Linked DNA regions of Homo sapiens. The protein of the gene in region 1 purifies or fractionates together with the protein of each later gene. This does not show direct contact. Each region holds a gene or a part of one and is shown in the gene's direction. Other genes may lie near its edges. The genes, in order: UXS1, TTYH3, IPO7, NUP98, NUP160, SAAL1 and NOP9.

Region 1 (3,500 bases):
TGCCATGAATTTTATTATGTGCACATGGAATGATCTTCCTGTCGATGCTGAGTATTATAGAATTTATTTTGCTTTACACATCACCACAGCAAACAGACTTAGTTTTTTTTTTCCCCTCATCTGCCATCTCATAGGTTAAGCACATTTCTGAGGCATTTGGCATGTGAGTCTGGTATATTGTTGCTATAACTTAAAGCCTTTTCAGTAAATTGGTAAGCCTTAGGACAGCTTCAACAGAAAGAGGAGACTTGCTTTGAAATACATTTTTTGATTTTTTGCTAATTTGCTAAGCATCATGAGTTTGACTGCTGACCTTGAACTAGACCACTTTAGCTGCCTATTGGCACCCACAAGAGCGAGCAAGAAAGCACACTGAGACAAACCCCTATACTGGAAAGCCATGCAAAGCCGTGTAAGTTCTAATCCATCTCAGTGTAAGAGGTCTTACTTCTTTTCTCCTGTTCTCTTTTGGGTATTAGCTCCTTGTTATTCAAAGAATATCCTTGGGTTTGGTGATTAGTGTTCCTGATAGAGCTTTGTAAGTGCTAAGCTTTCACCAAATTTGTTTCTATTTGAAACACTTGCCTAATGGGCTAACATTGATTAGGATAAAAAATTGCATAACCATCCAGCTATATTATATAAATCTTAAGTATTTTAGGTAGAAGGAAATTACTTCAGAAAAAAAAATTCCAGTGCATTTTAGTCAAGCTAAGGTGCTTCCAACAATTTTACGTCAGTACTAAGACTAGTGAGATGTTGGAGATGATCATGTGTAATTTAATACGCTGCATCTCTGATATCTCAGAACTGTCTGCCAGGTATTTTGGGTGCAGAGATAATGTTAGAGTGCCACTGAACATTTTGTTTTCAGAAATATTTGCATATAGAGAAACAGTTATGTTAAAAGGGGTTACATTTCTTTTTAAAAGTTGCAAGTTTTTAAATGTAAAAATCATGGAAAACTTGGAAAAAATGCAATAACGTGAAGATAAAATGAAATCTCATCCCGTGAGTTAAGCTCTAGTGGTGAGTCAACTTTGAATTTCAATTATTTTTCTGGAAAATCGTTTTTCATAGTCATTGTTCAGGTATAGCAGTAGAATGTGGGAGCTCTTAAGATGAAACACGAACCAGACAAATTGACAGGCAGTAGAGAGCGTGTAATTAGAAAGACTGTAGCTTTAGTGTGTCCCAGCTAGTGATCTCTGAGGATTTTAGTCAAAGACGTAACTTCTCTGGGTGTCAGTTTCTTATCTTGAAGGCAAAGGGGATTTGGAAAATGGTGCTGTTGGTAAAGCCAAATGAAAGCTATCGAGCATGAGGATGCCTGGTCTCACCCATCCTGTCTTAACCATTTGATTTGCATTTCATCAGAGCATATGTAATATCTATGTGGTGGTTAAGGGATGGTTATTCTTGAGGTTGGCCTTGTTAACTGAAAAACCAAACTCTAAAATATTTTAGAGGTGTATTATGATCCAGTATGAGTAACTGCAGCCCCAGGAAACACAAAACCAAGAAGCCTTGAGTAAGTGTGCCCGAGGCAGGCGGATTAGTTTAGTTTTATACATTTTAGAGAGGCAGAAGTTACAAGGAGGTATAAATCAATATATAGGGCTTTTACATTGGTTTGGCCCAAAAAGACAGGCTATTTTGAAGTGGGGGCTCACAGGTATAGGCGGGTTAAGAGATTCTGTATTTTATTTTATTTATTTTGAGACAGGGTCTCTCTCTGTCACACAGGCTGGAGTGCAGTGGCACAATTGCCACTCACTGCAGCCTTGACCTCCCTGGCTTTAGAGATTTTTTACTTTGTAATTGGTTAAAGGAGTAAATCTTTGTGTAAAACTTTGGAGTCAGCAGAAAGGAATCTAAGTTATGACAAGGAAGTCTGTTCACCAATACACTGGGTCAGAATGACTTGGAGGGATGTGACTTAGCTCCTGTCTGGCACGACCCTAGGTCCTGTTTATGATCTCTGTTTTAATATTAACGTTGGTCAGTTGTGTCTAAATTCCAAAAGAGAAAGTATAGTGAGGCATGTCCAATCTCCTTTCACATCACTGCTGGGAACTCAGCTTTTCAGGTTTCTCTGGGGTTCCGTTTGGCCAAGAGGGGGCCCACTCAGTTGGGGGACTTAGGATATTTATTTATTTATGAGACAGAGTCTCGCTCTGTCACCCAGGCTGGAGTGCAGTGGTGTGATCTCAACTCACTGTAACCTCCACCTCCTAGGTTCAAGTGATTCTTGTGCTTCAGCCACCATAGTAGCTGGGATTACAGGCGTGTAGCTAATTTTTGTATTTTTAGTAGAGACGGGGTTTCACCATGCTGCGCAGGCTAGTCTTGAACGCCTGGCGTCAAATGATCCAGCCACCTTGGCTTCCCAAAGTGTTGGGTACAGGCATGAGCCACTGCACCCAACCCAAATTTCATTTTTAGTTTATAGCCTCCCCTTACTTCTCCTCTGCCATTTTTGATCTTTTTCATCCAGATGGCTTCTTTTTTTTTTTTTTTTTTTTTTTTGAGATGGAGTCTTCTCTGTCACCCAGGCTGGAGTGCAGTGGTACGATCCACTGCAACTTCCGCCTCCTGGGTTCAAGTGAGTCTTCTGCCTTAGCCTCCCAACTAGCTGGGATTACAGGAGTGTGCCACCACGCCCAGCTAATTTTTTGTATTTTTAGTAGAGACAGGGTTTCACCATGTTGGCCCGACTGGTCTTGAACTCCTGATCTCAAGTGATCCACCTGTCTCGGCCTCCCAAAGTGCTGGGATTACAGGCATGAGCTACCACTCCACTCAAATCCAGGTGGCTTTACTCTCTCACCGTGGTGAATACTTCATCGTGTGTGAGATTTCATTTATTTTAAACAGGAGTTTCATGGAGAATTACATGTTTTAAAACCATAGACCTAGGAGTTTGTATACCTTTTATTTTAGGTAGAAAGGATTGCTGTCTTCCTATTAATACTTTCCGTTTGAAACAGAAGGGTGAAATGAATGAGAATTTTGGTGAAGAGAAGGCAGAGTGGAGAACAGGATACAGCAGGCTAGAGAATTGAGTTGTGCATGGCACGTCTGTTTTCTGAGCCTATTCTTTTCACTCCCACCGCCTATAACCTTCCCCCAGATGAAATTCCCTTTATCCTCCTCCAGTTACACCATTTAATTTGAATAAAATACCTGTGTTCAACTTAAAAGTATTTTTCAAGCGCAGTTGACTTTTCACCTTTGCAGGGGTCTAGGTTTTGTTATTACTGAGTTACCGTCAAGACCCCTCACAGCTGCCTCATCGTGCTCTGTGGCTGGGAGTGTATACCACACTGGGTTCACATCACCATTCAGAAATTAACCACACAGTGGACTTAGGCGTTTAGGGCTTTAGTCTACAAACAGCATGTATTGCTTATTAATTTGTTCTCATAAACAATTTAAAAGATATTTGTTTTTCCTGCAGTTTTTGAATCTAACTTAAATATTAAGTTTTTTTTTCTTGG
Region 2 (3,500 bases), on another chromosome or scaffold:
TGGGGTGTGTTTTGGGGATCTGAACTGGGATATGGGGGACTCGTGGTGGGGGCACCTGCAGTGGGGTATGCACAGGAGGCCTGTGTATCTGGATCAAAGGGAGCCAGATGTGGGTGAGGTGAGGCCTCAGATGAGGGAGAGGCCAGTGCCGTAGCAAGAGCTCTGAGTCCCCAGTTGCTGAGCGAGGGTTCAGCACAGGAGGGCTTGATCTAGCTGACGTTATCAGGCCCCTTGGGCTGCTACGTGGGCGGCGGGATGCGGGGACCCACGTGAAAGTGGACACTGTTGCCTGTTCAGGAGAGGGACCTGGGGGACAGGAGGGGCGGGGCCCCAAGAGCCACGTGGCCCTCCAGTCCTGCTTCCAGCTCAGATCTCTGAGCCCCACCCCACCTAGGAGAGGGATCCATCTGGGCCCTGGGCTGTGGGCAGCTCTGGCTGAGGCCAGGCCACAGGAAGAGCCCCAGCCCATGTGTGGGCTGACCCCTGATGTGCACTGGGACCTGCCTTCTGGCCTGCAGCCCAGCAGGTGGCACGGCCCCCACCCTGGCCTGGGGGCTGCTGACTGGCTGTCTCTGCCCCAGGGTCTGCCTGCTGGGAGTCCTGGCCCTGGTCATCAGCTGGGGCGCGCTGGGCTTGGAGCTGGCTGTGTCCGTGGTGAGTGGCAGAGGGGGTGAGGTCCCCGGCTGCTGGACCTGGGCACTGGGGGAGGGACGAGGGGAAGCCACACTCCTCTCCCCTCCCATCTTCCCGGGCACTGGGTCCCGAGAGCGGTGGGGACCCACCATGGGCACAGTCCACCTGTAACCCCAGATTCACAGTCCACCCTCCTGAGTTGAAAGCAGACTCCAGGGGACGGGTTCTACCCCCGAGAGCTTCCCTTTAGGCCCAGCTTGGTCAACCCCTCTTGCTTGCCCACGCCCACCTCAGGGCTCCAGCGACTTCTGTGTGGACCCTGACGCCTACGTGACCAAAATGGTGGAGGAGTACTCGGTGCTGAGTGGGGGTGAGTCTGTGTCCACGGCCGTGTCCCAGCGGGTTCCCCAGGGTTGGGCTGAGCCAAAAGAGTGGGGTAGCTGAGGCCGAGACACCCCTGCCCTGTGGGTCCATGGTCTCAGGGAGACAGGTCCCAGGCCAAGATGCTAGTGAGCAAACAGGACCACCTTTCCCAAGTGGGAGGCTCTGCAAAGAATGACAGGAACTATGTGGGGTGGCGGGTGCCCGCGTGGCAGGGGGAGCGGCAGGTGACCCAGGGCTGCTTCGAGTAGATGCCCAGGGGAGGCCAAATGGGTGGCATTAAAGTACAGCCAGAGGTCTGGGTGCAGTGGCTCACACCTGTAATCCTAGCACTTTGGGAGGCCGAGGCGGGTGGATCACCTGAGGTCAGGAGTTCAAGAGCAGTCTGGCCAACATAGCAAAACCCTGTCTCTACTAAAAATACACAAATGAGCTGGGTGTGGTCGTGGGTGCCTGTAATCCCAGCTACTCCGGAGACTGAGGCACGAGAATTGCCTGAACCCAGGAGGTGGAGGTTGCAATGAGCCGAGATCGCACCACTGCATTCCAGCCTGGGCAACAAGAGTGAAACTCCATCTCAAAAAAAAAAAGTAGAGCCAGAAGGACGCTGCATCTCTTCTAAGAGCCCCGAGGCAGGAGGCAGACCCGAGGGGAGAATGGAGGGTGGGAGGCCAGTGGGGCTGAGTCTCTGTGGCAAGCTTCGCTTTATTCCAGGGGGAGGCCATTGGAGGGAGGGAGGCAGGGGAGAGATTTGACCCATGATTGAAGGTCCCTTTCAAAGCTTCCTCAGGCCTCAAGGGTTACAAGAGTGGGTGAGGAGGATACCTCAAGCAGGAGACAGCAGGGGCTTGAATAAATGGAGCAAAAGGTGGACAGGGATGGGCTTTGAGGGCGGAGCTGGCAGGACTTCCCGGTCAGTTGGATGTAGGGAGCGAGAGGGACGGAGCAGGAGTTGGCGTCCCTGGTTTCAGCAGCTCTGTGCTGCGGGACCATAAGCTGTACTGTGGGTGGGGGAGCAGGTCTGGAGGTGGGGGGCAGGGAGCTGGGGCATCGGGAGTTTCGGCCCCCTCGGGAGGTTTGCGATGTGTGTCGGACGGCACAGAGGCAGGTGGACGTGGGAATCTGGAGATCGGGGTGCCGTCAGTGTGTTAAGCTTCTCAGGCCCCCCTTGTGGAATTATTGTGTGTTCCCCAATAGGAAATAGAAGGCCTGTCCCTGTGGGGGTGAGGGTTACTGAATGACCTTGAAGGTGACCATCCTGCCACCCTTTGTCCCTGGAGGCCACAGGATTGGCTTGTGGGCTGGTTTTTTACCTGCCTTTGTTGAAGGAACCACTTCCACCAAAGCCTGAAGAGCCTCCTGGAGGAAAAGTCATCTGCCGCCCACTGACCTTGTCCTCGGGGGCGAGGGTGGAGGGGTGGGCCCGCTCTGCTAGGGGCGGGGAGGGCTGGTGACCGCTCAGTGCTACCCACCACTGTCCTTGGCCCCGGTGCTATCATCCTGGTCCCTCCAGGTCCCTACTGTAGCCGGCGGCCTTTGGGGGGATCTCATCAAGTATGAGCAGCGCCCCCTACACGTGTACATGTACACACGTAAGTGTGAGCTCCAGCCTGCGGGCCAGACAGCCCCTCCCAGAAGGCAGCAAGGCCAGCCACGCTGGCTTCACTGCACAGGCGGCCACAGTGATGCCTGGTGCTCTCCTATGTTGTTAAATACTTTCATCATTTTTTGAACTTTTAAAATGTTTTTTTTTAATGTTCTTTTATAATTGGAAGAACTGAACTTGTAAAGAGTTCGGAAGGTGGAACCCAGGCAAGGGGCAGTGTGTGGGGACTCTGGCTTGATGGGAGCCCAGACCCCACTGCCACACACACAGACATAGGCATGTGTGTAAATGCATGCAGACACACATGCGAAGACATGTACACACAGACATGCACACATATAAACACACAGACACATGCACACCGGCACACGTGCACACGAAACGTGCACAGAGACACATGCACGTGTAAGTAAACATGCAGACACATGCACATGTGTAAACAGGTGCACACAGACACACATGCACACATGTAAACATGCACGCAGATGCCCTGAAGATATGCGTGCAGACACAGGCAGACGTGCACGCAGTCTCACAGGGACAGCTGTTGCAGCTCAGCCTTCCCTGATGTCTCTCCGCAGACATCCTGCAGTACTACCTGGCCTGCTCGCCCCGCGCCGCCAACCCCTTCCAGCAGGTGAGAGCCTGGGAGGCCGGGACTGGGCTTCAGGAGAGTCTGAAGCACATTGCTGTGTGTGGAGGGGCCCAGCAGGCCTGGCGCCTGGCTCCTCAGCCTGCAGGACTGGGGAACTGGGGGAGGGAGCTGGACAAAGGCTGTGTGGATGTCACCAACAGCCCCTGGGGTTACCATGCCGGTGACCTGGTGACCTGGCTGAGAGCCTTTCGGGGGGACCTGCTCAATGCACCCGCATCGCTGGGA
Region 3 (2,488 bases), on another chromosome or scaffold:
ATATAAAGTTCTGCTCTTAAAGAGTTGATCTAAGAGTATGGCTAAACATCTATATATGCAATCTATTAAAAGAACTTAATTCGGCTATTATGTCTTGATTTGATTGCAGTTTTTTCCTAATTATAACAAATTTTTCCTCATTGGCCTGTTTTTAATCCTGTGCCTAGAAGGAGTACAAAATGCACACTTTACAAAATTGATATTTAACACTTACCCACTCCCCTTTCCCCATCTCTTCTACCGCTCTTGTTGATCGTGGTATCTGATCTTGACTAGATAGGCTGAAGGCACATGGTTCCCTCCAAAAACCACTATTGATACCACTACAAAAACAAGCCAGCAAAAAGATACTGTAGAGAGGTTGGCTTGCTTCCCTCTCTTCCTAACTGCATGTTGAAAAATAAGCCGTTATTGATCTTAAACATCGGTCAGATGAGTCATACATTGGGTTATTTTTTATATACATGTATACACAAAATATTTCAAATTGAAAGCAACATCTTAATGGATTCAAAACTATTACAAGCTGTTGTCTAAAACAGGTGAGAAAAAAATTTATAACTGTAAAAACAAATGCACATATTGATATTTAAAATGCGTAATTAAGAAAACCCATTGTTGTTGTGTTTTTCTTGTATACCAATAATTAAGCCACTACTGTTGGCACTGTTTGGTTTTCTATTTTAACACTGAAGGAGTGAAAGTATTTCCTATATTTATGAATTTACTACTAAAATCTTGGCAAAAAAAGAAAAAAATTGTCTAACGTGTGTGGGTGAAAACTGTTAATCAAGTGTTTCTACTCCCCCCCGAAAATCCCCTGAAAGTTGGACACCAACTGTATACCCTAGGTTGCTTAAAGGGATTTCACTATTATATAAAGTCAATAAAAATGAAGTAGTTGTATATATGCAACATTGTGTACAGAGGGGAAATAATGAATAGTATTAAAGAAACATTCTCGTCTTCCTTTACCTTTAATCCCCTAATACCTAGTCTACTTTTTAAATTTTCAGACTTCACTGCTTTTTGAATTCATAATTCTAATTTTCACATTATTGTTAATGGAAAATCATATCTAATAAAGGTTTTAGTTATTCCCATGCACAGTATGAAAATTCTCATTTGCTGAGGTTTTGTTTCAAGAAAATGTATTGGCATGTCTTTGAGAACATGTTTTATTGTCTCCTGTGTCATATAATCCAAACTAATCTCCGTTTACAGACTTTAACTTGAAATTAGACCTTATAATTAAACTATTTAAATAGTGTTCAAATGATAGTTTCTAATGCATCAAATATATACCTCAGTTTTCATGATTTCCTTTAACATTATAATTTGGTATAGATCAAGAATCTTAACATGTATCAGTTTCTAGATGAGGCTGCAGGATTTTTGGAAAACTTTTTGAATGTATTTACAATATTCTCTTGTAATTAGCTACATAGGGACTTGTCTTTTTTTCTTTTTACATACAGCTTTTCCTACAGTTTTATTACCCTGTAATTTTTTTTTAGTTGTAGAAGTTAATTCTGATTTTGTGTGGATTTCAGTATTTGTCTTTGTTAATGGCACATATTAGCATAAATCACTTTTGTAAATGTAAGCTTTCTTTTTTTTTCTTGAAAAAGCCTTTCTATTTATCAGTATTAAATAAAGGAAGTTAATCTGTTTCTCTGCAGGTAATAAAATAGTGACACACTGTATTAAGATAGTGACTGCTATACTCAACTCTGGAAGAGACTAGAGTATAGAGCATGAGTGGCAAAACCACAGCCCTTGGGCCATATGCTGCTATTCAGTCCCAGATGTAGCCCCTGAAGCAAGCATAAAGAAAAATGAATTAAAAATTAAATTAATATGGAAAGTTAAAAAATGGATTACATTAGTATGACTAAACCATGTCTTTGGCAAAGATCTAACACAATGTCTTAAGTATAATAGGTAGTCTCTGTTTGTAAAATAAATGACTTAAATTTAAAACATCAGTTATAAAACTGTCAGTTCTGTTCTTTGTAATTTAAATTTTGGTAAAGATTTTCTGTGACCATTTATCAGTGCCTACTGAATTCTAGCTTTTATCCTTGGTGAGTTGGCCATTCTTGCAATAGCCACTTCACACTTTGGCTCATGGTAAACAAAGGTTACCTGGAAAGTGCTCTTGGAGATAGTACTGGCATCTCTCAATTGGGGGAGTTACCTAAATCAGACCTGCAAATTAGAGAAGGCTAGGATAATAGATTCTTTAACATAAACAGTTAACATTTTAAGTTGACCTGGCAATCCAAAAACTAGCATTAGCAGAAGCAGTATGCTTCTCCAAAGGTCTTCTAGACCCAGGCTGTAACTCAGCTAACTGAAGTGATCCAATACTGTTCTAGGCCCTTCATCCTTTGTATGTAGTATTACCACTGAATAGATTTGTATGTAGTATTATGACTGCATAAAACAAACAATGGGGACAGATATATCCCTTTCCTTTAAGGAC
Region 4 (3,500 bases), on another chromosome or scaffold:
GCCTCCCAGTCTTAAGTGAGTCTCATGCCCCAGCCTCCCAAGTAGCTGGGAGTATAGGGTGTGTGCCACCACACGCAGCTAACTTTTGTATTTTTAGTAGAGATAGTGTTTCACCACATTGGCCAGGCTGGTCTTGAATTCCTGGCCTCAAGTGATCGGCCCACCTTGGCCTCCCAAATTGCTGGGATTACAGGCATGAGCTTACCGCACGCCTGCACGCAGCCTTAAGGTCAGTCTTTGTAGTCGTAAAATGAGTCTCCACTGCTTGCTTATGGTGCAAAAACCAAACTCATTATAATAAATATAGGATTCAAGTCCTTTTAGAGGCTTTTACCTTTCCTGCCTTACTCCTACCACTCTTATTCCACGTTCCAGCCTTGCTAGCCTGCTGTACTCACACTAAATTACTTCTGGTGTTTCTAACAAACCATATTATGTTCCACACTACCTAGCACACTTAAACTCATCCTTTTAAGATCTAGGTTGCTGTTACCCCTACTTCTCTCTGCTTTTCCCCAGAGATAATTAATTGCACTTTCTTACTACCAAGATACTTAGTACATTATTCTACTAGTGCACCTGTCAGACCATATTGTAGTTACTTATTCATATTTTCAGGTTGCTATAAGCCCCTTTTGGGAAGGTCTTTTACGGTTACAGGCAATAGAGTGTAGAGGTTAACAGCTCAAGTTCTGGAAGCAGACTTATAGATTCAATTTGTGGCTTCCAAATTCACTGGCTATGTAATCTTGAGCAAGTTAACTACCTCTCTCGTCTGAAAGAAAAAGGTGGGTGGGGTAGACAGTAGTACAGATTATAGTTCATATTGACAGATTTTCACAAAGATTAAACAAAATCTACATGAAGTGTTTTACATAGTACCTTTCATGTACTAAATGCCTTTTTTTTTTTTTTTTTAGGCAGAGTTTTACTCTGTCACCCAGGCTGGAGGGCAGTGGCACAATCTCAGCTCACTGCATCTCCCAGCTTCAAACAATTCTCCTGCCTCAGCCTCCCCAGTAGCTGGGATTACAGGCGTGTGCCACCACACCCAGCTTTGTGTGTGTGTGTGTGTATTTTAGTAGAGACGGGGTTTCACCATGTTGGCCAGGCTGGTCTCAAACTCCTGACCTCGGCCTCTACTAAATGCTTAATAATTGTTATCTATTATTATCCTCATCAAAGTTCCAACTCCTAGTACAGTGCCTGGCACATAATAGACATAATTCAATGTTTGCTGTACTTTTAGTATGAATCAAGAACATCATTTCTAAATAATCACTTGAAGAAACCACTTTCTCATTGAATATTGAGTAATTCATTCACACAACCTATTATGGAGAACTCACTGTATGCCAAGCACTGTAGTGGGTTTGGGGAATATAAAGGTAAACAGTATGTGTTCTGCCCTTACCAAAATAATGATTTTGTGGGGGAGATACATACAAGTAAAGCAGCAATTACTATAGCTTGATAAGTATAGGGATTAAGCAAAGGGTACTATCAATGTGCCAGCACATAGCTGGATGTGGTGGTGCATGACTGTAATCCTAGTACTTTGGGAGGCTGAGGCAGGAGGATTGCTTGAGACCAGCCTGAGCAACATAACGAGACCCCCCTTCTCCCAAAAAAAAAAAAAAAAAACCTATGTTACATAAAAACTCTCTAGTATTATCTTGTTCTGCTTCTTCTCCTTACCCTACATGTCACCATGTAAATCTCCTTTGAATTCCCACCTTTGGGGGTTTTAGCTGTCTTCTCTTTGCCTGGAAAGCTGAGCTCTCTCCTTGTTATTCAGGTCTCAATTTAAATATGACCTCCTTAAAGAAGCCTCTCTTGGTCCTCCAGTCTCAAGTAGCTATCCAGTTTCTCTCTGCCACATCCACCTGTTTAAATTATCTACATGGCTTGTGATTTTTCAGGATTTATTACTGTTTTGTGTTTTCTTATTTATTTTCTATCAGTTTCATGAGAGCAAATAACCTGTCTTGCTCTTGATCCTCCTGCCCCCTGCACACAGCTTTTTTGGTGTTTTAGAAAAGGCTATAAACTTGGAGTCAGGGGACCTAAATTAAATGTTGGTTCTGGCTGCATTTTTTACTTCCTTGTGTGCTCTTTAGAAGTCATACCATCTCTCTGAACCCAATTTATCTTGATTTTTGGTGCTGTGTTATTAAAGCTTGCTGTATAGTTCGGGATCTCAAGACTTTTCCTAGTCCAAGGCTAGGTAACTGTGTTACCTTCCTCTTGGCTATTACTGCATAATTAGTGCCTTGTCCTCCACTAGATGGTGGTGGCTTGGCCCTGTGTCATCATCTTGGATTTTCCCCTCCCTCACCTCACTGTTGTTTCAAGGTTTTGTGTAGAGTCTATAGGTGGGATTGGAGTGATAGGAACTCCCCTTGGATTAATTGGCTTCTCTGCTTCTTTGTAGGTGGATTGCTCAGGTAATGACCTGGAGCAGTTACACATCAAAGTGACTTCACTGTGCAGTCGGATAGAGCAGATTCAGTGTTACAGTGCTAAAGATCGCCTGGCTCAGTCAGGTAAGCCTCTAACCTCCTCACTCTTTCTGCCTTCTTGCTTCCTGTTTTTATGATTATTACACCCCACCCTCAGTGCCTACCACCCTTCTCCAGACCCCATGCTCAGTGCTTGACTCTAGTTTTTCTCTCTAGACATGGCCAAACGTGTAGCCAACCTGCTGCGCGTGGTGCTGAGTCTGCATCATCCTCCTGATAGAACCTCCGACTCAACACCAGACCCTCAGCGAGTCCCTTTGCGCCTCTTGGCTCCCCACATTGGCCGGCTTCCCATGCCTGAGGACTATGCCATGGACGAACTGCGCAGCCTTACCCAGTCCTATCTGCGAGAACTGGCTGTTGGGAGCCTGTGAGCCCCAGGCACTTTGCATCACAGTCACATGCCCATTCACACCACACAGAGGTTCCCTGCCTTGTTTGGATTGGCACTGTTTGCCATTCTCTGGGTTGGCTGTGGCATCTACCCTCCCTCCCTGCTGCCAGAAGCAGCATCCTCCACTTGTTCAGGGCTTTTCTTAATACTGAACGTAGCATAAGGGCTTCTGGAACCCAGAAGAGGAGACAGTTTACCATCCTCAAGATCATTCAGTGTTTTTCCTTTAAAAAAATGGTCAATAAAGCTCCTTTGGCAGAATCCCCCAAAGAACCAGGGTATTCTTTTTCCATCCCTAGCCATTCTGGATCTTGTGACCCTCCATGCCAACCAGCTTCCCTACTCCTACCCTGGCCCTTTTATACTAGGACTCCTTAGGAGGAGTGAGACAGGTGATAATGGATCCTTAACAGATGAACTATCCACAGAAGGAAGAGGGATCCGTCTCTTAAGTAATTGGTTAGTTAACACTGAATTTTGGAGGCAAAGGAGGGTTGGCCTGAGTTAGGAAACAAAATGGGATCTTTCTGACACACTTAGGGCAGAAGTGAATGCCTGTCACGGAGGGATTGATCTTCAGGGCT
Region 5 (3,500 bases), on another chromosome or scaffold:
AAAAAAAAGTTTTTGGCTTCAAATTCATTGTATAAGAGAAGCCCAGTGCTTTACAAAAGGATTCTTTGGCCAACGGTAGTGACTCACACCTGTAATCCCAAAATTTTGGGAGGCTGAAGAGGGAAGATCACTTGAGCCCAGGAGTTTGAGAGCAGCCTGGGCAACAGAGGGAGACCCCATCTCTAAAAAAAATAATAATAATAGAAAAATAGCCAGGTGTGGTGGCATGCACCTGTGGTCCCAGCTACTCAGGAGCCCTAGGTTGGAGGACTGCTTTAGCCCAGGAGGTAAAGGGTATGGTGAGCCTTGATCATGCCACTGCATTCCAGCCTGGGAAACAGAGTGACACCCTATCTTAAAAAAAAAAAAAAAAACTGAAAGGATTTTTTAAGGTTACAAAGGCTTCTGGCTGGGTGCAGTGGCTCACACCTGTAATCTCAGCACTTTGGGAGGCCAAGGGGGTGGATTGCTTGAGCTCAGGAGTTCAAGACCAGCCTGGGTAACATGGCAAGATTCCCATCTCTATTAAAACAACAACAAAAAGTTACATAGACTTTTTTTTTTTTTTTCCCTTTGAGGCAGGGTCTCGCTCTGTTGCCCAGGCTGGAGTGCGGTGGCACGATCTTGGCTCACTGCAACCTCTGCCTCCTGGGTTCAAGTGATTCTCCTGCCTCAGCCTCCCAAGTAGCTGGGACTACAGACGCATGCCACCACACCCGGCTAATTTTTGTAGTTTTTAGTAGAGACAAGGTTTTGCCATATTGGCCAAGCTTGTCTCGAACTCCTGGCCTCAAATGATCCACCCGCCTCAGCCTCCCAAAGTGCTGGGATTATAGGCATGAGCCACCACACCCAGCTTGCATAGGCTTCTTTAAATTACTACTTAGCTTCATGGATGGATTTAAAATACAATAACTCATATAATTGAAAATTATATTAGAATATTTTAGACTGACCTCCCACATAAAACAGAAATGCCTTCTGAGGCTTTTGTGATAGTTATTCAGCCTTTAATTGTCTCTACCTCCACTGACCACTTTGTCACTACCTCTTGTGGGAGTTATTATTCCCAAACTGTGTCATTGAAAAGGAAGCCTCTCTTCTATAAATCAACCCTTCAAGTATTTTAAGAATCTTTCCAGGTCACCTTTCTCCAGACTAAATACACCCAGTTTCTTAACTTTCTCTTGGGTGATGTGTGTTCCAGGTATGCCAAATCTCTATTATATAGTTTTATATTGCCTCTATGTCTTCTAAACTGAAACGTTTTCCATTCAGTTTTGGCTATTATATAGAAGTCTAAAATGTCTTTTAATGTTAGATTTTCTGCCGAGGAACTGAGAGGAATTTGGATCTTTCCTGGAGTGAACTGAAGAAAGAAGTTACTTTAGCTGTTGAAAATGAGGTGAGGCTTGGGTAGAGAAAGAATAAGAATTCCTTCCATCTTGATATAGGGCAGATTGGTACTGACCGAGGAATTACTGGAATTCTTCACTTGACCTTGTTTGTTGGAACATATAAATGTTTAAACCTTTTAACTAGAGAATCAGATACACATTTGCATAGTCTATGGCCTTTAATACGTAAGGAATATTCATTTGGCTGTAGCTTAGTATAATGATATTGGACAATTATGTTTTTTGTGGACAAAGATCCTGAATGGCATCAAAAGTTTAATTTCTTTCATTTCTTCTTTGCCAGCTTCAAGGAAGTGTAACAGAGTATGAATTCTCCCAGGAGGAGTTTCGAAATTTACAACAAGAATTCTGGTGCAAGTTCTATGCCTGTTGTCTTCAGTATCAAGAAGCCCTCTCTCACCCTCTTGCCCTACATTTGAATCCACACACAAACATGGTGTGCCTGCTGAAAAAAGTAAGTGAGCTAAAGCATAGAGAAGACCTTCTTGAGACAGTTCAGTGGCTGTTATAACAAAATGCCTTCAGAAAACAAAAAGTTCAGTGGCTCTTGCCGAATGTTAGTCTGGTGAATGTTGCGGTTAGCATTTAGGACTTTGCATTTGTATTTTTTCCCCTAAAATTGTGATTCATTCATTTAAATAGTTTTCTGTGTTATTCTCTATACTTTTTTTGTATTTTATTGTATTTATTTCTTTTTCTTTTTTTCTCTTTTTTTGAGTTGGAGTCTTGCTCTGTCACCCAGGCTGGAGTGCAGTGGTGTGATCTCAGCTCACTGCAACCTCCGCCTCTGGGATTCAAGCAATTCTCCTGAGTACCTGGGACTACAGGTGTACACCATCACACCCGGCTAATTTTTGTATTTTTAGTAGAGGTGGGGTTTCATCATATTGGTCAGGTGGGTCTTGAACTCCTGTCCTTAGGTGATTCACCCGCCTCAGCCTCCCAAAGTGTTGGGATTACAGGCGTGGGCCACCACACCCGGCCTATTTACTTTTTATATTGAAGTAATTTCCAACTTAAGGTAAGAGTTACAAGAATAGCACAAAGAATTCCTGTATACCCTTCATCTGGATTCATCATTTGTTAACTTCCATATGCTTTTCTTCTTTCTCTAAACAGTTTTTCCTGAACTACTGAGAAGTTAGTTGTAGATATCATGCTCCTTTATCCTTAAATATCCTTAAATATTTCAGCATGTATCTAAGAACACAGATATTAAATAACCACAGCCCAATTTAAAAATCAGGTTATTTGATATTGACATAATATTATACAGCTTATATTCAAATTTTGCCAAATATAACATATATATATATATAGTTTATATTCAGATTTTGCCAATTGTGCCCATAATTTTTTTTCCTGATCCAGGATCCAATCTTTTTTTTTTTTTTGAGACAGTCTTGCTCTGTCGCCCAGGCTAGAGTCCAGTGGTGCAATCTCGGCTCACTGCAACCTCCGCCTACTGAGTTCAAGCGATTCTCCTGCCTATCCTCCAGAGTAGCTGGGATTATAGGCACGCGCCACCACACCTGGCTAGTTTTGTATTTTTAATAGAGACGGAGTTTCGCCATGTTGTGACCAGGCTGGTCTCAAATTCCTGGGCTCAGGTGATCCGCCCACCTTGGCCTCCCAAAGTCCAGGATCCAATCTAATATATGTATTTAGTTATTGTGTCTCTTTAGCTTAACCTCAAACTGTTATCAGCGTTTCTTTGTCTTTCATGAGAATGATGTTATTTGAAGACTATGCTTGTTTCTTTTTTTTGTTTGTTTGTTTGTTTGTTTGTTTGAGGCAGGGTCTTGCTGTGTCACCCAGGCTGCAGTACAGTGGCACTCTTTTTTTTTTTTTTTTTTTTTTTTGAGACAGAGTCTCGCTCTGTCACCCAGGCTGGAGTGCAGTGGCACGATCTCAACACACTGCAACCTCTGCCTCCTGGGTTTATGCCATTCTCCTGCCTCAGCCTCACCAGTAGCTGGGACTACAGGCGCCCGCCACCACACCTGGCTAATTTTTTGTATTTTTAGTAGAGACGGGGTTTCACCGTGTTAGCCAGGATGGTCTCGATCCCCTGACCTCGTG
Region 6 (3,500 bases), on another chromosome or scaffold:
CCCTTCTGAAATGCCTTCTTTTCAATGTCATGTCTAAAGTAGCCCGCTTTATCTTGGTTTCTAGCACATATCTTATTTTCTTTGTAGCATTTAGAAATTGTGTAGTTTAGTTGTTTTATATTTATTGTTTGTTCATTTCTTTAGAATGAAAATTCCATGGGACTGAGCCCTTATTTAGCTTGTTCACTGATGTATCCCCAGAACCTAAAACAGTGCCTATTAGGTTTTTCAGAAAATATTTGGGGAGTAATGAATGAATAGATGAATACCTGAGAGGTAGCATGTTGTGCTGGTTAAGAACATAGTCTCGCTGGGTACTTGCCTGTATTCCCAGCTATTTGGGAGGCTGAGGCAGGAGGATCACTTGAGCCCAGTAGTTGGAGGCTGCAGTGAGCTATGATAATGCCTGTGAATCTGTGAATAGCCACTGCTCCAGTATGGACAGGATAGCAAGACCCCCATCTCTTTTAAAAAACAAGACCATAGGCTCAAATCAGACTCATGGGTTCAAATCCTAGCTTTGCTCTGCTGAGACTGTATAATCTTGGGCAGGTTGCTACACTTTTTAAACTTCAGTTTGCTTATGAGTGTAATGGGGCTAACAATGATAACTAGTTGATAGAGTTGTTTTGAGAATTAAATGAGATAGCATGCAAGCCACTTCACTGTGCCTGGCATTTAATACTTGTTCAATGAATGTTAATTTTATTACTGTTGGTGTTGATATTGTTAGGCCACCCTTGTGCTACTCCAGGAATTACCATTAAATTTAAAAATTTCTGCATGTGGCAAAGAATTGCCCACAGGACAGCTTGATCACTTACAGTGAAGAGAATCTGCCATTATGACTTTCAGTTTAGAGTGTATCTTTGAAAATACTATTTTCTCTGACCATGGTCCTTTAGTAAGTAGAGTGTGTCTCTCTCAGTCAGTTGTCTGGCAGGTTACTGGTTTCACTTGCTGTGGAGAATAATTGCCTGTCTCTTTGAGATGTTCCAGGGCCCTTAATTTTCACATAAGCCATGCAGCTTATATTTTAAGTTAAGGCTTCTCAAATACACACCTCACATTTAGTGAAAATCTGAAGCAGTGGACAGCCAGAGACTTAATTTTATTTATATATTTTACATTGCAGGTCCCCAAGCAAACTGACTTAGCTTTTGTGTCTTACATTCCTAGGTGAGATTTGGCTCATTTGGGGCCACATGTCCACTCACATGTCACCTGTGTGTTACGCCCCTTTAGGCACTGTGGCAGACTCTGTAGGAAGAAGTTATGAGGCTGCCACAGTTACATTGTGATCAGAATTTTTATTCTATTGATGATTTTGAAAACACAAATTCTGGTTTTGGACAGGACCCAATAGCAGTTCTTGACTTCTTTCCCCTACCGTGTTTTAAGCTCTTGGAGGACAAGAAGGAATTTTGTTTTTGTTTGAGACAAAGTCTCACTCTGTCGCCCAGGCTAGAGTGCAGTGGCGAGATCTCAGCTCACTGCACCCTCTGCCTCACGGGTTCAAGCAATCCTTCCACCTCAGCCTCCTGAGTAGGTGGGACTACAGATGGTACACCACCATGCCCAGCTAATTTTTGTATTGTTTGTAGAGATGGCGTTTCACTATGTTTGCCTAGGCTGGTCTCGAACTCCTGGGCTCAAGTGATCCGCCTGTCCTGGCCTCCCAAAGTGTTAGGATTACAGGCGTGAGCCACCTCGCCCAGCCAAGTTTTACCTTTTTTTTTTTTTTCCTTTTTTTCTCGCTGTGTTGCCCAGGCTGGAGTACAGTGGCAAAGTCATGGCTCACTGCAACCTTGAGCTCCCCAGGCTCAAGTGATCCTCCCACCTCAACCTCCCAAGTAGCTGGGACTGCAGGCATGTGCCACCACACCTGGCTAATTTTCGTATTTTTTGTGGATATGGGTTTTCACTATGTTTGCCCAAGCTGGGCTCAAGTAATCCACCCACCTCGGCCTTCTAACCAGCCTCCCAAAGTGTTAGGATTACAGGTGTGAACCACTGCGCCCAGCGTGTTGCTTTTTTCCCTTGTCCCCCGCTTCTAGTTTAATACCTGATAGGTAATCACCAAATGTGTTTGAATGTGTTTAATGAGAATTCCTAGTGGGCAGAAAAATTATTAAGGTAAATAGATTCGGGCAGAAAAGAGTGGGATAATCCTCTGGAGTATTGTAGGTAGTTTAGATTTGTTTATGAAATTGTTCCATTGTCTGGGACTAGTTACCATAAAGACTCTCTAACATCACTTTTGTCTGTTGACACAGTTCCTAAGCCTGTGTTTTTTTTTTCTTGTGTCTAAAATTCTAATTTTATTTTATTTTTTTATTTTTTTTGGAGACAGAGTCTCGCTCTGTCACCCAGGCTGGAGTGCAGTGGCGTGATCTCAGCTCACTGCAACCTCTGCCTCCCGGGTTCTAGCGATTCGCCTGCCTCAGCCTCCTGAGTAGCTGGGACTACAGGTGCATGCCGCCATGCCCGGCTAATTTTTTTGTATTTTTAGTAGAGACAGGGTTTCACCGTGTTGCCCAGCTGGTCTTGAACTCCTGAGCTCAGGCAATCTGCCAGCCTTGGCCTCCCAATGTGCTAGGATTACAGGTGTCAGCCACTGCGCCTGGCGTAAAATTCTAATTTTAATATAGAATTTTATGGTTGCCTGAGCTTTAGGGTTTAGGGAGGAATATTCAACATCCAAGTTAATAATCATTTTTCTTTTCAGGACGTGGCTTTATTTCTCCAAGAATTTAATGCTCCTGATATATTCATGGGAGTACTGGCCAAGTCCAAGTGTCCTCGATTAAGAGTAAGTATGTACATTTCTAAAGCCTTCTTCTTTGAAGCAATAAGAACAGATAGTGCTGGATAGTCTTTTATTTTTCTCACTTTGATTTTCTTACTGACCATAAATCAACAAATCAGCCTGTAGATGTTAATTGAACATTGCCAGGTCCTAGGTAATTTGCTATTTAAATTTATTTTATTTTATTTTTGAGACAGGGTCTCACTATGTCTCCAGGGCTTGGAGTGCAGTGGCGTGATCACGGCTCACTGCAGTCTTGACCTCCTGGGCTCAAGGGACCCTCCCACCTCAGCCTCCCAAGTAACTGGGAGTATAGGTGTAAGCCACCACACCCAGCTAATTTTTATTTTTATTTTGTGGAGACAAAGGTCTCCTTATGTTGCCCAGGCTGGTCTTGAACTCCTGGCCTCAAGTGATCCTCCCACCTTGGCCTCCCAAAGTGCTGGGATTATAAGCGTGAGCTAAATGCCTGTAATAATTTAAAATATTAAATTATTAATAATTTAATAATTTAAAATTATGAAAATCATAGAATTTTAGATTCAGGCCGGACCAGGGAAATTAGCACTTTCATTTACCAGCTGTGGAGACGAGTTAGGCATAACCACTGTTATGCTGCTAGTATGTATCAGAACAAGGAACAGAGCCTGGGCCTCCCATTTTTCAGTTGATTTCTCTTTTTTACTGACAA
Region 7 (3,387 bases), on another chromosome or scaffold:
CTTACACATAGGGAAGAGCCACTTAAAGTTCCTTCCTGTGAGGTGGCACCTCTAAGACTGCCCCCTTATCCTGGGCCTTATCTAGCCAAACAAAAGTCCTGATACTGGCAATGCTTTTTATGTTTTATCTAGCATTTTTAGTTGTTTTCGTTGGGAAGATTTCTCTGAATAATGTGGTCCGCCATTACCAGAATGCCAGAGTTACATTCCATGTTTCCCATCAGCTGTCCCCTGTGTTTGAGGAGCTGAGCCCTGTCTTGGAAGCTGTATTGGCCCAGGGCCACCCAGGGGTAGTCATTGCCCTGGTGGGGGCCTGTCGCAGAGTTGGGGCCTACCAAGCCAAGGTCCTACAGCTCTTGTTGGAGGTGAGTGGATATTACCCACAATCTGTTTATGCCCTCAGTTCAACTTCTACCTTTTAGGACTTATCTAATCTTAAGTTTTTGTACCTCTGGACTCAGGAAGTCTAATGCCCAAGGAGTTCACAGGAATGGGGGAAAATGAGGCCTATAGGTGCCCGCCACCATACCCAGCTAATTTTTTTTTTTTTTTTTGAGACGGAGTTTTGCTCTTGTTGCCCAGGCTGGAGTGCAGTGGCGCAATCTCAGCTCACCGTGCCCGGCTGAGGCCAAATGTTATTTCACAGTCCTGGAACAAAAATTGTCTCCCAGAACTAAGAGAGAAGTTTATTTAAGGGATAAACATTTATTAACCCCTGTATGTGATAGAGGCTGGGGATACAGCAAGGCATGACATCTGCTTTCATGGAGCTAACATTCTTGTGGAGTTGGGCCTTCTTTCCTTTCCTGAAGGTGTTCCCTTAAAGTTGAGGTAAGGGACGGAGAAGTTCTCAGGTTCATCATATTCTGTCTTCTCCTTTAGGCATTCCACTGTGCAGAGCCCTCATCCCGGCAAGTGGCCTGTGTGCCTCTCTTTGCCACTTTGATGGCTTATGAGGTGTACTATGGACTGACGGAGGAGGAGGGGGCAGTGCCTGCAGAGCACCAGGTGAGGTAGGGGAGAGGCCAAGCCAGTGACTAATTGGGAGTCAGGCCTCCCAGGGTTTAGCAAGCGTCTGACTTCTGAGGTGAGAGTGGTGACTTCATCCAGGTGGAGGTGGCAGTGTTCTGGGGATGGGCTCATCCACCTGGCTTGTTGGTGCCTCCTAATTTCTTATCTCTGCGCTGCCAGGTGGCAATGGCCGCAGCCAGAGCCTTGGGGGATGTGACAGTCCTTGGGTCTCTACTGCTCCAGCATCTGCTGCACTTCTCCACTCCTGGTCTTGTACTTCGAAGTCTGGGTGCCTTGACGGGACCACAGCTTCTGTCCCTTGCCCAAAGTCCCGCTGGCTCTCATGTGCTCGATGCCATCCTGACCAGCCCCTCTGTGACGCGCAAGCTGCGCCGCCGTGTGCTGCAGAACCTAAAGGTTAGATTTCTGGCTTTTGCCTTGATTCCCCACCATCATCCATTTAGAGAATATGAGCTTTCCCTGGACTGTACCTTCAGACTCAAAAAGGCTATGTAATTCCTAGACTATTTTAATTCAGCCCTTAAACTCTTCAGAAAATTCACTCTCCACAAGCCTCCAAAATACTTTTGTGGATTTTGCTAGGGAGACCTACTTTGCTTGTCTCCATACAGGGACAATATGTGGCTCTGGCCTGTAGTCGCCATGGCAGCCGTGTGCTAGATGCCATCTGGAGTGGAGCAGCCTTGAGGGCCCGGAAGGAAATTGCTGCTGAGCTTGGTGAGTACCAGCCCCTCTCTTTGATGTTTCCAGACTCTCCCCTCTCTTACTCCAGATCACTGGGTAGCTGGGAAGTCTACTGAAATTCAACAGTCTTTAGTTCCAAAGGGTGGTCTTGCTCATGGGTTCTTAGCAGTCTGCTTTCCCCTTCCCTCCCGCTGACTGATTGTGTAGTCCTCTGCCCTCACCCTGCCCTCTGACTTCTGTTCTTTGGAAAGTGAAGTGTTCACTTTATCCCAGTGGCAGTCCCAGGGTCTGGGGGAAATGGAGGGATCTTTACGTCAAGTAGAGTCTGTCTTTGAGCATGGTAGTACTAAACATGAGTGGTTCCCTTTGCAGGGGAGCAGAACCAGGAGCTGATAAGAGACCCTTTCGGCCACCATGTGGCTCGAAATGTGGCCTTGACTACCTTCCTAAAGCGGCGAGAGGCTTGGGAACAGCAGCAGGGTGCGGTGGCCAAGCGGAGGCGGGCATTGAACTCCATACTTGAAGACTGAGGCTTTGGATCTGGGACTGGGTGTTGATGGGGGAGGGCAAAATGGGGTATCCACCCCATCCCTTTCCTGGTTTAAATTGGAGTCAGAAGTCTTAGTGGTAAATATTTGATATTTTTATTGGAAATGTTTTTGTTAGTTTGAGGGGAAGGGTATGAAGACAGATCTCAAGGTAAAGTCAGAGAGGGCTGTCATCAGTATGCTGGGGAGTTTAGGGACAGGAGGCATTGGTAGGGGATTAGATGTAGCAGCAGTCAGGCTGGGATCAAGATGCCTGGGGGACATCTTGATCTTGGCCTTTCAGGGCAAGTGGGAGGCCAGAAAGGTGGCTAGGAAAGAACAGCATTCTTCAGGTAAGGGTATAGACTTGGGATGTGAGGCGTTATGCTGAAAGGTTCTGTCACGAGGGGATCAGAGGACAGTGGGGAAATTGGGTGGGTTATCTAGCCTGTACTGTCTGCAGGTCCTGAAATTTGATGCTGTCATAGTCTTTGCAGTGGGTCGGTTGGAATGATTCTGGGGGCAGAAGCTCAGAGCCCCTTAGTAGGAATGGAGGCGGCCCTTCTGCTGCCACTGCTCAGCCCCCTCCACTGCATGACGAAGGGTGGAGGAAATTCCCAGCAACATATGGCCCAGGCCTTGCAGCAGTGTGGAGGTCCAACGAAGGAGCTCCCTGAATGGCAGAGACAAGAGGAAATCAGATGATTTGGAAAACTTGGGAGGAAGCCATCAAGCTGGGAGATGAGGACTTTCCACAAGCAAGAGCTAACTAGGGGTAGGTGGGTGCAAGAGGACGAATTATGGGGACTATCCAACTGTAGGGGATGGGGCAGTATGACATGTTGATTTCTGACCTGAGTACTTTCTTTGGGCCAAGTCCTTGAAAGTCACAACTCATAGAGTAGAGCCCGTAGAATGTGGCTTTGACATTCAGGCTGCCAAAGAGGTCTCGAGGGTTTTGCTTGTACACGTCAAAGGTGAATCGGGCGATGTCCTTGCTGTGCTTGGGCCTCTCCCGTCCCAGGCCATATGACAGCACTCCACTCTGTAGGACACCCTTGTCAGTGCAGTAGATCCTCATACCAGACACCCACCACTAATCTCCATCAGCACTGGGTCAGACCCTCCCTCGCTTGGACTTTCT

What was found.
Region 2: the proteins of UXS1 (region 1) and TTYH3 purify together in Homo sapiens (affinity purification with mass spectrometry; 2 studies listed by BioGRID and IntAct, with this or other methods). This does not show direct contact.
Region 3: the proteins of UXS1 (region 1) and IPO7 purify together in Homo sapiens (affinity purification with mass spectrometry; 2 studies listed by BioGRID and IntAct, with this or other methods). This does not show direct contact.
Region 4: the proteins of UXS1 (region 1) and NUP98 purify together in Homo sapiens (affinity purification with mass spectrometry; 2 studies listed by BioGRID and IntAct, with this or other methods). This does not show direct contact.
Region 5: the proteins of UXS1 (region 1) and NUP160 purify together in Homo sapiens (affinity purification with mass spectrometry; 2 studies listed by BioGRID and IntAct, with this or other methods). This does not show direct contact.
Region 6: the proteins of UXS1 (region 1) and SAAL1 purify together in Homo sapiens (co-immunoprecipitation; 3 studies listed by BioGRID and IntAct, with this or other methods). This does not show direct contact.
Region 7: the proteins of UXS1 (region 1) and NOP9 purify together in Homo sapiens (co-immunoprecipitation; 3 studies listed by BioGRID and IntAct, with this or other methods). This does not show direct contact.

Annotation. Positions count from the first base shown.
Region 1 is NC_000002.12:106,145,802-106,149,301, reverse strand, and holds part of UXS1 (UDP-glucuronic acid decarboxylase 1), read left to right. Parts: intron 1-3,500. UniProt on the Homo sapiens protein: Catalyzes the NAD-dependent decarboxylation of UDP-glucuronic acid to UDP-xylose. Necessary for the biosynthesis of the core tetrasaccharide in glycosaminoglycan biosynthesis.
Region 2 is NC_000007.14:2,648,986-2,652,485, forward strand, and holds part of TTYH3 (protein tweety homolog 3), read left to right. Parts: intron 1-581; coding exon 582-654; intron 655-927; coding exon 928-1,003; intron 1,004-3,201; coding exon 3,202-3,257; intron 3,258-3,500. UniProt on the Homo sapiens protein: Calcium-independent, swelling-dependent volume-regulated anion channel (VRAC-swell) which plays a pivotal role in the process of regulatory volume decrease (RVD) in the brain through the efflux of anions like chloride and organic osmolytes like glutamate.
Region 3 is NC_000011.10:9,446,140-9,448,627, forward strand, and holds the end of IPO7 (importin-7), read left to right. Parts: 3' UTR 1-1,988; downstream 1,989-2,488. UniProt on the Homo sapiens protein: Functions in nuclear protein import, either by acting as autonomous nuclear transport receptor or as an adapter-like protein in association with the importin-beta subunit KPNB1.
Region 4 is NC_000011.10:3,675,555-3,679,054, reverse strand, and holds part of NUP98 (nuclear pore complex protein Nup98-Nup96 isoform 1 precursor), read left to right. Parts: intron 1-2,434; coding exon 2,435-2,546; intron 2,547-2,678; coding exon 2,679-2,896; 3' UTR 2,897-3,500. UniProt on the Homo sapiens protein: Plays a role in the nuclear pore complex (NPC) assembly and/or maintenance. NUP98 and NUP96 are involved in the bidirectional transport across the NPC. May anchor NUP153 and TPR to the NPC.
Region 5 is NC_000011.10:47,813,851-47,817,350, reverse strand, and holds part of NUP160 (nuclear pore complex protein Nup160), read left to right. Parts: intron 1-1,321; coding exon 1,322-1,405; intron 1,406-1,701; coding exon 1,702-1,872; intron 1,873-3,500. UniProt on the Homo sapiens protein: Functions as a component of the nuclear pore complex (NPC). Involved in poly(A)+ RNA transport.
Region 6 is NC_000011.10:18,096,083-18,099,582, reverse strand, and holds part of SAAL1 (protein SAAL1), read left to right. Parts: intron 1-2,728; coding exon 2,729-2,812; intron 2,813-3,500. UniProt on the Homo sapiens protein: Plays a role in promoting the proliferation of synovial fibroblasts in response to pro-inflammatory stimuli.
Region 7 is NC_000014.9:24,302,850-24,306,236, forward strand, and holds part of NOP9 (nucleolar protein 9), read left to right. Parts: intron 1-132; coding exon of another isoform or gene 133-141; exon of another isoform or gene 142-218; intron 219-224; coding exon 225-365; intron 366-882; coding exon 883-1,008; intron 1,009-1,191; coding exon 1,192-1,428; intron 1,429-1,643; coding exon 1,644-1,749; intron 1,750-2,088; coding exon 2,089-2,246; 3' UTR 2,247-2,783; coding exon of another isoform or gene 2,784-2,916; 3' UTR 2,917-3,097; coding exon of another isoform or gene 3,098-3,288; 3' UTR 3,289-3,387. Other genes in the region: lipid transferase CIDEB, read right to left, coding at 2,784-2,916, 3,098-3,288.